3 separate regions of the Homo sapiens genome follow, and regions 1 and 2 are each reported to be linked to region 3. Evidence: microRNA targets listed by miRTarBase, many of them from high-throughput screens and not tested one by one. Region 3 holds a microRNA gene; each other region holds the end of a gene's coding sequence.
What was found. Region 3 holds the annotated microRNA hsa-miR-6502-5p (AGCUCUAGAAAGAUUGUUGACC, at 2,486-2,507, opposite strand). A microRNA usually pairs through its seed, bases 2 to 8, with sites in the 3' UTR of a target mRNA and lowers its output. Matches are read on the target gene's strand: a 7mer-m8 pairs with bases 2 to 8, a 7mer-A1 pairs with bases 2 to 7 and ends in A, and an 8mer does both.

Region 1 (4,000 bases), not on the chromosome of region 3:
AGTCTGAATGTTCAATGGAAATAGTTCAGTACTGAGAATAAAATATTTTTCAATTCACATTTGAATAGCCAGGTTTTCTTACATTCAGATTTTAATACACTAGAATGACAGTCTTTAAAACAAGCATGCTAGCCTATAATGAATATTGTATATACAGTAATTTAAACACTTAGAACTATATATTATACTGCAAAAGCAAACAGCACAACACTCATCATACTCATCATTATCTGCTGTGTATACTACCTCCAAAAATGAAAATACAAAACAGTAAAATGCACCTATGGTTTATATATATATATATATATATATATATATATATATATATATAGTTTATATATTATATATATTCTTACAATATATATAATATATATTTATAAAATATACATACATTTTAGACATTTTCAAATAAATCTTCATCATTATCTCCAAAAGAAATTTATAGCAAGAATACTGAAGGAATGAAAGTCAGATTAAAAAAAAAATTTCTCACAAAGTTCATCATCAGTGATGCAGCTCAATTTCCCCCGTTTTAGTCATAACTAAAATGATTATAAAAGCGAAATATTTTGCATAACTAAGTATTTGTTTAATGGCAAAAGTTGTTAAACTTGTTCAATAGAAAAATACTGAAGGTCATTATATCACTTTTGTTAAATAATCTGTCTATGGTTTGAGTAGCAAATGAGCTCCATATGACAGTTGAGTTTTGAGAAGGGTGCTGCAAGCTCCCAGAGATGTATCCACAGCATATGAAAATAAGGCAGGGATCCAAACCTCCCGCTAATTTTCATACTATTCCAATACATTTCAAACAAAATATTTACAAATGAAGCACTATGAAAGCATTTCAATGGCTGTTTAAACATTGAATTTGTTCATTCTGTGAATTTTCATTGAATGTTCAACAGGCTAGGGGAAAAGTCAGACACATGTATATGCTACTCTGGTTGGAAGACAGCTTTGGCTCATTTCTAGGCTGAGATCATGCAGTGCTGGTAGAGAAGACTCTCTCCGTAGTCTCCAATGCCACAGCACTGGCTTTCTAAGGAACTTTCAACAGTTCCATTTGCGCTACAGTCTATGTATCTCATGGTTATTTTCCACTCACTGACAGAAAAATTTCAACCATGAAGCATAAAATGAACGGGGGAAGAATGTCCTGGTTTTTAGAATTTCAGTGACATTAATAAAGCAGTAACTGAAGATCTTAGAAGGTAATTAATAACTGGTAGAACAATAGCTTTGTGGTCATCCATCATAAATACACCAAGTAATGGCATCTTCCTTCCTTCCTTCCTGGAAGGAATTTTCCAGTATCCTTCTACAAATGTTAGGTTAGAAACATTCTTTCTTCACTGTGAAGAACCAAAAGAAATTTACTGAACACAATATGGAATTCTGTATCTGCATGGAAATATTAAGTATTCACCTGACAGCTCATGTTTAGGTCAATTCATTTAATTACACAAAGCAGTCTCTTGAGCCTGCTTGTTAACCAAAGCACAAAGATGAAATGAAAAGGTAGCTGTATTACTACAGCATATCTGTATGAAAATCAGGCAAATTTAGCACAAGTCTCTAGCTTTAAAGAAAATTTGCCTGTATAATGCAGAATTCTAGAGGCAAACAGGCAGAAATTTTACAGAAATATTTGTCAATCATTAGCCACACCACCACCAGAATACTTTTTCAAGGAGTAGATGTACGTATCATGAGAAGCATCATTGTTATGACGATGGAAAATGTGGGGAATGGAATATGTAGAAATTGTTTTAATTGGTTAAAATATCTATAGATTTAATATTTTTAAAATCTAAGAGCCTATTTATATGTTTTTTGGTGGAAAGTTGGACGTTAATAATTTATTTCCAATTTCTAGATTGGTCTCTGTCATTTGGGACAAAGAGTAAGAGAGACATAAACCACTATAGAAATAATGTCTTTATGACAGGAGACTAGGTCTAGATAGCAGGGTCTTCAGAATCCCAAAAGGTGAACACATGTAGGTGGGTCACAGGTAAGTTGGGCTGGGGAAGCCTGGCCTTTTAAGGTGTGGATTTCCCCAGAAACAATACTGATCCACTGCCCATTAAAACATGTATATCTCAATTAAACAATGGGGGAGGAATAGGGAGAGAGAAAGACAGAACTTTTTAGCCAATATTTGGCATTAAACTCTTTCATCCAGGTTTCCAGGAGATTCTTACAGGGATTAATAGAGGACTTCTAGGGTACAAAATATTTGTTTTTATTAGTGCTTCTGCAAAAGCAGCTGCGTGAAGTTAACCATACTCTTTGGGCTATTAATAATTATGAACTGTTCTTGGTAGATGTCAGATAACTTGAACGTGACAAAGAAGAAAGAGCACAGATCATCTGAAGCATGATTAGGTGGGTGTTGATAAATGATTATTAGCAAATAAATTCTATCTTTTCAGTCACTGAAAAGTAAGATTTCATTGGTATGAAATAATCACTCTGGTACTATAAATGTCACATGAATAAAGTGAATTTTAAAATAGAAATTATTAAAGAGATATGCCCTGTTTACCCTTAAAAATAAACAGAATTTCAAACCTGAATAAGTTAAATCTGTTAGTAAAAGCAGAGTCGATCAACTATTCTTCACAATGGTGAGTGCTTGATAGCTAAACTTTAGAATGATACCAAATCTGTTTTCAAAACTGTAATACAATATAGAAATCTGCTTGCAAACTATTTGTCTAGCATTTCTGAATAATAATATATTTAACATATTATTGCATTTTTCTCCCCCTAACAGGTAAAATGCTTTGCCAGGTGCTTTATGTGAACAGCTGAAAGGAGAGTCAAATTAAAAACTCAGTTTAACACTGCCTGGTCATTATACACAAAGGGGTTAATATGGCAGATATGATAAAGATTACTATTTTGACTACTTAATGTGTTTTAACAAGATTTCTCAGGGGAGAACTTGGTCTAAGTTTCCCGTTTTCTTCTATTCAGTCCCAGCTATCAAGCTTTTAAATTATCCATTGTAGCATGCCCTACTTACTCAACAGGGACAAGCTAAACTTGTATTCGCTCAGGCCTGCCTAGCGAATTAGAACCACCTCAGAAATAAAGGCGCCTATTGGGGAGAAATTTGAAACAGACCTCAGGCTCACAGATTCAGCTGAGCTTGCAGCAACCTGAACAAACCTTAGTTTTAGAAAACAGTATATGAATTGCAAAACTATACTTCAACAAATGTTCTCTGTGCTCCTTCAGCAGAACAAAAGGGCAGGACGAGATGATTCTTGCCCTCGTCTTCTGTATCTCTTGTGTGCAGTTGATTACTTATAAACAGCTAGAAGGTGAAGATGATGCATTGCGTCATACAAAGACTTTAGCCAGTGCGTCAGCTCCAGCACTGGCTATATAGCATTTGGATGGGTGGAAAGCTACATCATGAATCGATTCTTCAAACTTTTTTCGATGAGCTGTGAATTCTTGGATACACGTCTTACTTTCTAGATTCCATAAACGTATTGAACAGTCATGACCTATATCCAAAAAAAAAATTAAAAGGAAAAATTACATTAACATGAAAATGGTAAGGACAAATAAATAATCCATAGTTGAGGTACTTACTGCCAGACATCAAGTAAAGGCCATTGGGATCAACTGCTAAACTTGTAACAGCTTCTAGGTGGGCTACCATCGAGTGGATCAGTTTGCCTTTGGAAAAAGAGATTGTTACTCCTTATTAATGCCTTTCCTCATCTTCAATATTTGCCAGCTACCATGTCCTGCTGGTTTCTCCAGTCATCCCTCTCTGTGTGCTTACTGTATTAATAGCTTTTTCCATCACCTAAAACAACATGTCTCCCTCTTGCCTCTAGTCATGGCAATGATATGGAAAACCAAAAAAAGCTCAAATTTTAGATTACACTTTTGTCTTTTAAGCCACGATATGGAAGTCAGTAATTTCTACACGCAACCCTTAAGCCACGTTTGTTAATTAGAACTTAGACAT
Region 2 (4,000 bases), not on the chromosome of region 3:
TGAATTATATCAATGCCCGCTTTGTCTTCCAGGTGAAGGCTTCCATAATTACCATCACACCTTTCCCTTTGACTACTCTGCGAGTGAATTTGGCTTAAATTTTAACCCAACCACCTGGTTCATTGATTTCATGTGCTGGCTGGGGCTGGCCACTGACCGCAAACGGGCAACCAAGCCGATGATCGAGGCCCGGAAGGCCAGGACTGGAGACAGCAGTGCTTGAACTTGGAACAGCCATCCCACATGTCTGCCGTTGCAACCTCGGTTCATGGCTTTGGTTACAATAGCTCTCTTGTACATTGGATCGTGGGAGGGGGCAGAGGGTGGGGAAGGAACGAGTCAATGTGGTTTGGGAATGTTTTTGTTTATCTCAAAATAATGTTGAAATACAATTATCAATGAAAAAACTTTCGTTTTTTTTTTTGTTTGTTTTGTTTTTGAGACAGAGTCTCACTCTGTCACCCAGGCTGGAGTGCAGTGGCGCAGTCTCGGCTCACTGCAGCCTCCACCTACCTGGTTCAAGCAATTCTCCTGCCTCAGCCTCCTGAGTAGCTGAGATTACAGGAGCCTGCCACCACACCCAGCTAATTTTTTTGTATTTTTAGTAGAGACAGGGTTTCATCATGTTGGCCAGACTGGCCTCGAATTCCTGACCTCAGGCAATCCACCCGCCTCGGCCTCCCAAAGAGCTGGGATTACAGGCGTGAGCCACCGCACCCTGCCGAAAAAAACTTTTTTTTTTTTGAGACGGAGGCTCGCTCTGTCCCCCAGGCTGGAGTGCAGTGGCGAGATCTCAGCTCACTGCAAGCTCCGCCTCCCGGGTTCACGCCATTCTCCTGCCTCAGCCTCCCGAGTAGCTGGGAGCCAGCGCGCCCAGCCTAAAAAACTTTTCAAGTCAATATTACTACGATTTAACATTAGAGTGTGGACATGTGATTTAATCGCTATAGCTAAAATACGTCAAATATACGTTGTCATGTGCTTGAACATGATGCTAACCCTGACAGGATGAAGGAAAGTAATATTCTTTCAGTGTAGTTCAGGAGAGCATTTGTTTTCTTTTCTACCAATTAACCCATCATTGCTTTTAAACAACCATCTGAAGGAGCAGAGAGGCAGGGTAGAAGACAGAAGGGGGATCTATGTGGTAACTAAAGAATGTTTCTGTTTTGTTAATTATTGTGTGTGTGTGGTTTTATTGTTTGCTTAAGAGAATCAAAAACTGAAAAAAATGAGAATACAGGAAATGGCTCTTGTTTATTTTTTTGCTGTGTTTACAGCTTGTTAATGCTCTACTGTCTTTGTTTCAAGAGAGATTTGTTCACTGCCCAGCTCGTTTTGTGTCCTGAGCCCTATGGCCAGCCCACCTTATAAATCATGCCTGTTTAGATGTTTGATTTTGTTCTGTTTGCTATTGTTATCTTAAAGGTGTATAACTCTGACATGCCAGACATCAAATTAAGCTCAAATTAAGCTCTCGTTTAAATGTTTAAGCACCTAATTTATATTCTAATTGATCCCAGCCACTGATGCATGTACTTTAGCTACTTCTGCTAAATAAGCATATTAATTTTCCACATCAGACCATCAGATCTTGAGAACCAACAGTTATCTAGAATTCCGTGTCTACTAATGTTTCACCTGCATGCAGCCTTCATTAATTTTGTAGCAAAATATAAAGTGATCATTATGTAGCTTCTGGATTAAAAAAATTTGTGTGTGAAGTTGCTTTGTAAAGTGCATGTGGAATTAATGGGACAGTGTGCCCTTTGTGTTAGATGTTAGAGCAAAAGAAAGGGCTTATAGTGTTAGTATTGGAGCACTTTGAAGATAGATATTTTCAGAAAAGATGTAGGATTTAAAAGTTAAATTTTAAATTTTAGAAAAAGATATGATGGCAATTGGAAATAGTCACAATGAAGTTCTTCATCCAGTAGGTGTTTAACAGTGTTATTTTGCCACTGGTAATGTGTAAACTGTGAGTGATTTACAATAAATGATTATGAATTCATTGGTGTTCTTGTCCAGATACTTCAGTGCTGTTTAGAGAATGTTCTTTCCAGAGTGCTTGGTGCCTCATGATGATTGTATGACTCACATTGGGATTTGGGCTCTGGGCTAACAACAGCCCCTGAGACCAGCCCCTGAGACCAGGCCTGTCCTATCCTATCGGCCTTAGGCAACAGCCAGAGGAAGCCAGCAAGTTTTATTTGGAATGTAGAACTCCCAGTGGTATTGTTCCCTGATTCTCACTCACCAGCAGCCACTGGGAGTGCTTATAGATGATAATTGGGAATCTACTCCTATATGTCACCCAAAGGAGCATGAAGGACACCTTCCCCTCTCCAGGCCCCACCAATAGTTACCAGAGGTGGGGGAGATGGACTCCTGTTTTCACTCTAGTCCTGCCTCTCTCAACCTCACCTCTGCACCACCAAAGTCTCCACCCATCTTTTGCCCCAAAGCAGCTGTGGCTGTACTGTCAGGTAGAAGCTTCTTAACGTGTCTGCAGTTGAGTGGGATTCTAGCCATTGATGGGTACCAGGCTAGATCACATCATGTAAGGACCCTTTGGATGTGACCGTAGCATTTTTCAGCTGCTTCATATCCCAGTCACACATTGCTAAGACCTTGTATAGAGCGCAGGTGGAGGGTAGTCACATTCCAAGATAAGTTTGTATCAGCATGATGTGAAATGGCCCTTAATTGGGAATGTATATGTGAACCTTTGACTCCTAAAAGTACTAAACTTACTTACTTGTCCATTAGTCAAAAAGATGACATTTGGAACAGCTATTTGGAATCTTTTTACAAAAGGAGGGTATTTCCCAGCTAGACCAAATAAATCTAGAATCTCCTTCCTCTGAACCTGAGTGCCATCTTTTTTTCTGCAGCAGAGCCATGAATGACCTCGGATTGGAATGATTTGGAGGAAGAGTTGGACAAAGGTTAGATTGCACTAGTGTCTTCCCTGTTAACATTCCTTTCAGGTCTCAGCAGCATCTTAACAGAAAGTAGCTCTGGGAGTTATTTCCCAAACCTATCCAAGGTGGCCTTAGACTGATACATTGTTTGAAAGTTTCAGTTTAAGATAAAAAAATGGTCCCCCCATGTCCAGTCTTTAATCTCCTCATCCTCACAAGGCTTATTTCAGAAGCACCCACCCCTGCATCTAGGTGAAGGGAGCCCAGGGAAAGCAATTCCAATAGCATGTGTCCCACAGGCGTCATGGCAGAGTCATGGAGCCAGCCTGGGACAGTGGAGCCAACTCAAGTTCACCTCGAGTCCCCAACTCTGCTACTGGCCAGCTCTGTGGCCTTGAGAAACGTCAGCCTTTCTGGATTCAGTTTCCTTCTCTGAAAAGAGAGGACTCTTCTCTAAGGTCCCCTTCAGCCCTAACATTCGACCACAGCAACAGAGATGAGTCGGGCGTGTTCTCATATGCCTGACTTCAAATTCGAAACACCTCTCAAGTTAGCACTCATCCTTTCTGGACATAGAAGGTCAAAAATTGGGAGTGGGAGGGAGTAAGTGAATCTGAATGGGAGAACACAGACTGAGGCTGGAAGGATAGAATGTTCTTGGTTTTAAAAAATCTGCATATATTTTGTGCATTCCTAAAATGCAATAAAGCAATTAAATATAACCCATCATGAAAAACAATTTAATGAGAGAAATTATTACAGAAAGCTCTACAGCTTAATGGGGTAGTAGAAATAGCACTGGACTTGGAGTCCTGAGACCTGGATTTGAACTCTAACTCTTGATCTGACTGGCTGTGTTACCTGGGACTCAGGTTAAGGCTGAAATATGACATATGAAATTGTCATTTACTAGCCTGCGGAGCCTCTCTGAGCCTCAGTGTCCTTGTCTACACGACAGGAAGAGCAACATTTATGTGTATTAGATGAATCTGGAAGCCTCATCCCAGTGCCTGGGGCATTGCAGAGCCCTGGGAGACATCAGTTGAGGGTGAGTAGCATGCCCCACACACAAGCCA
Region 3 (4,335 bases):
GAGACGACCAGAAAAGTTTGCAATGATGCAGATGACATCCATAATGAGTCTCTTAAATGAAGGTTTGGCAGGCAATACAGGTCTTTTGAATAAAAATGTCTCCCAGGAAAATACTTGCAAGTCAAGCCCACAGACCATCAAGTATATATAAATGATTTGGAACGGGAAGACAGATACAAAACACAACAAACATCAGTTTATTTCCTGCCAGAACACTGGTTTTTCATTGCTTAGACATGGTTTGGGAATATTTTCCACCATAGAGAAAATTTATAAGCAACACATACAACGACTAATCTTCTTTTCGAAGATATCTCAGATATTAGTATTTAAAATTAGTAGCTTTTATTCAAGAATGATGAAATGGAATAATTTAAGCAATGATTGATTATATTCTGAATACTAGAAAGATAAACTTCGGGTGCAATCTAGATGACAATCTTGATTCTGAAGATGCTTTGAAGGACTATTTGATTCATTCATTTTACAAATATTTGTTGAACCATATTATGCACCAGGTACTGTGCCAGCCATTAGGGATCCAAAAATGAGCAGGACATAGACCTTTCCCTCAGGGAACCTGCAGTTTTGTGGAAGAAGAAATATAATTTAACAGGCAACTCCAGTATCACGTGATAGTGACCTGAGGTTTGTGTAGGTGCCTCAGACCCCCGGAAGATGCCATCAGTATCCAAACAAATGCCCCAAAGAAACCACATACCAATAGAAGAATAGAATCTGTCACAATTGCCAGCCACAAAGCACACCATAAACTACTTAGTGCATATGAATAGCAAAGTGAGGTCCACCATGGGATTATCAGTTACACAACAGGACAAGGAGAAAACCTCTCTGAACCCATTTGGAAGAGCTGGCAGAGGAGCCAGGACCTATGACAGGAGAACCACCCTGAGATTTATTCACTTACATATAAGCTCCATGAGGGCAGTGAGCTTTGCTGGTTTCCATCTGCACTGTAGCCCCAGCTCCTAGAATAGTGCCTGATACAAAGGAAGCCATTGCTAAGTATTTATTCAATGAATGGAAGTTTGGATGGATGGATTCATTTAACTCATATCAAGTAACTGCAGTGGGTGCCTGTAGCAGAGAAGTTGTAGCAGAGGAGTAGGATAGTGATAAAGGCAGGAGACATGGTACCTACTAAAAATCTGTGGAATCAACAAATGACTTTTCACATCCATCCCTTTTCATAGGAGCTTGAACTGGCAGTGACTCCATTGTGCAATTTGGAACACAAGAAAAAGCATGGATTTTGAAGTCAGACAAATGTGAGTTCAAATCCTGGCTCCTCCAGATCTGGAAGGACCTGATGGGAGGACTGGGAGGACTTGATTTTAGCAAGTTAGTTTCCTGACTCAGTGTCCTCACCTTATTATAAGATGGGATCCACACCTTCAGGGTGACTCTAAGGGTTAACCAGAAAAAAACATGCAAAGCTCTAGACCCAGTTCCCTTCACCCTTACCCCATTTTTCTGGCATTAGGGATGGTTGTGCACAGCTGCTGTGGATCCCCAATTCCTTGAATAGCCATCCTGAGTGCTTCGTCAGTGCTCTTTTCTATTTCTCTTAATTCCGTATCTCTTTTCAGAAACCTTCTCCAAGAAGCCTTCTTCATCCTCTCAAAAATGCATAGTAATCTATTCCTTCTTCTCACCCTTTCAGCATTTACTTCGGTTGCATTGGTGTGTGGTTCAAATAACAGATGTCACTGAACTGTTGACTTGGGTAGATGCCCTGTCTTCCTTATTAAACTGTGTCTTACTTTGTACCTTAGTAGCTAATGCAGTGCTTTGATTCTAGCAGATGCTTAATAAATGCTACTCATGATAAACCTCACTTCCTGTACTCATCAGTCCTCAGGTCATTAAAGTTGTTTTACACAGGGTGATGTGCCACCCTATAAAACTACAATATTATGCAGTGAGTCACAGATCATTACAACTCCCAAGAAGTCAATAAAATTGATTATATCAGAAATCCCATACCTGTTTTTAAAAACAACAAAATGTTTTCTCCATGTGTTTGGGCATTATAAAATGGGACAAAAGCCTGAAGCTTAGTAAATAGGATCTGCCTGGAGGATTGCTCAGAGTGCATTACAAAAATGAGAGTAAATGAAATTATGAATTCATGTTTGCTGATCAGAGGGAACACCCGGAGACTCATTCTTGCTTTCTTATGTATCTTGGTCTCCACATCATGAAACTATAAAGGTATCCTCTTATTACCCATAGAAAGTTGCAACATTTAATTCATATCAACTAACGCTTATTAATACACCCACTAGAAGGCAAATCTAGTCAGGAAGACTGAATCACTCAACAGAAGATTTGGTACTTCCCAGCCACAGTGGCATCTGCTTACCACAACGTTAATCAGGTCACTGCCAGCTTATCTGACTTCATCTTTGAGGTGTCCAAAATAGTTATACTCTAGAAAGATGGTCTAGTCAATAAGATGATTGGTCAACAATCTTTCTAGAGCTCCCACTCTGTGCTAACCAACATCCTATGTAATAGGATGAATATAACAGAATGAAAAGAAAGGATCCTTTTCTCAAAAAACATACCAGTGATGGAAAGGTAGGATCTACCAATCTATAACAATTTAAGAGCACCTTAAGGCAGCGATTTTCACGGATGTGAAGAGCGGGCTTCACATCATTGGCATCAGCATCACCTGGGAACTCATTAGAAAGCAAAATTTCTAACCCCAGACCTATTGCATCAGAAGCTGGGTGGACCCAGCAATCTGCGTTTTTAACCAGCTTTCCAAGTCATTCTGATGCATACTACAGTTTGAGAAACCCTGCTTTAAGTCAGCTAAGCAAGTTCAAATCAACATAATACCCACAGATTATATGTGCGGAGTAACTGCATGGGCCTGGTGTTAATCAGAGCTTCCTTAATGACCCTTCATTGAATGTATTGGTGGGGGTCCATATTCTAAGTGAAAAACAGTTTAACACAGAGTCAATTCTTGATGATCTCTTTTGTGAATCAGAGAGCTCTGAGCAGCCAGATACCGTACAGAGCAGTGGTGGGCATGGGTTCTCCCAACTGCTTACCGAGGGCCTGTATAAAGCCTGTCAGTCAGACTAAGACTTACTGTGGTTTTAATCTCACTTCGTGCTTTTTTGGAAAATTGTAACTCCATGTTTCTGACCTTGGTCTGTTAATCTCACCCTGATTCCTGATGATTTTCTTCTTTGATTAGTTGTTCTTCAACATGGAATCTAATGTGAATATGATTAACCCAACCATACTGACTCACCAAAAAAATAAAATAAAACAAAAGACATGAGCCTATTCCTCTGCTGGACAAGAAACTAGAGGTTTACCCTTCTATTACAAGCTCCTTGGAGAGGAAAATTCAGTAAATCCTCTGAAAATGGTTTTCTTCAGTGTTTCTATCCATCATCATAAGGAGTCATTATCCTCCCTTTGTTAATTTATTCGGCAATGTTTATTATAGCTGAATTATTGATTATGTGGCTTCATAGGGGTAATTTAATTCAACTTAATTTATAAGGAAACACCTGCTCTGTGTAGGATGACACATTAGGCTCTGAAGAGATGGCCCTTACACACTCAGGGAGTATGACAGACAGAGTAATGGTCCCCCGAAGATGTCCACGTCCCAATTCCAGAAACCTGTGAATATGTTACTTTACACGAGAAAACGGACTTTGCAGGTGTAATTAAATTAAGGATCTGAGACACAGAGATTTTCCTGGCTTATATGAGTGGGCCCAGTGAAATCACAAAGGTCTTTATAAAAGACATGCAGAAGGGCCAGAATGAGAGGAAGAGGGTAGTGAAGAGATGCGGTGAGACAGACAGAGAGAGGGAGATCTGAAATGTCACGTTGCTGGCTTTGAAGACGGAGGAAGAGGCCATGAGCCAAAGAAGGCAGGTGGCCTCTAGAAGCTGGAAAAGGCAAGGCAGTGAGTTCTCCCCAACAGCCTCCAGAAAGAATGCTAAGGAATTCTGACCTCCAGAACTGCAAAATAATTAATTTATGTTACTTTAAGTCACTAAATTTGTGATAATGTGTTACAAAAACAATAGAAAACTAATATAGGGAGTTTACAACCTAGTAAAAGAGATGAAGGCTGGGCGCGGTGGCTCACGCCTGTAATCCCAGCACTTTGGGAGGCCAGGCAGGCGGATCATGAGGTCAGGAGATCGAGACCATCCTGCCTAACATGGTGAAACCCCGTCTCTACTAAAAATACAAAAAATTAGCCGGGCGTAGTGGCGGGCGCCTGTAGTCCCACCTTTACTCGGGAGGCTGAGGCAGGAGAATGGCGT

Region 1: miRTarBase lists STRN as a target of hsa-miR-6502-5p. The part of its 3' UTR that is shown has no 7-base or 8-base seed match.
Region 2: miRTarBase lists SCD5 as a target of hsa-miR-6502-5p. Seed matches in the 3' UTR shown: 7mer-A1 at 1,783-1,789.

The regions. Positions count from the first base shown.
Region 1 is chr2:36,846,099-36,850,098 of GRCh38, forward strand. It overlaps STRN (striatin), which reads right to left. Exons shown (of 18, transcript NM_003162.4): 17 at 3,616-3,702; 18 at 1-3,527. The coding sequence ends at 3,358. Among named protein-coding and RNA genes, the nearest start is that of STRN, 120 kb to the right of the region's middle.
Region 2 is chr4:82,627,550-82,631,549 of GRCh38, reverse strand. It overlaps SCD5 (stearoyl-CoA desaturase 5), which reads left to right. Exons shown (of 5, transcript NM_001037582.3): 5 at 33-2,011. The coding sequence ends at 223. Among named protein-coding and RNA genes, the nearest start is that of LINC00575, 8.1 kb to the right of the region's middle.
Region 3 is chr12:66,249,263-66,253,597 of GRCh38, reverse strand. MIR6502 (microRNA 6502) reads right to left here and starts at 2,516; the gene lies at 2,441-2,516. IRAK3 (interleukin 1 receptor associated kinase 3) reads right to left here. Exons shown (of 12, transcript NM_007199.3): 12 at 1-4,335.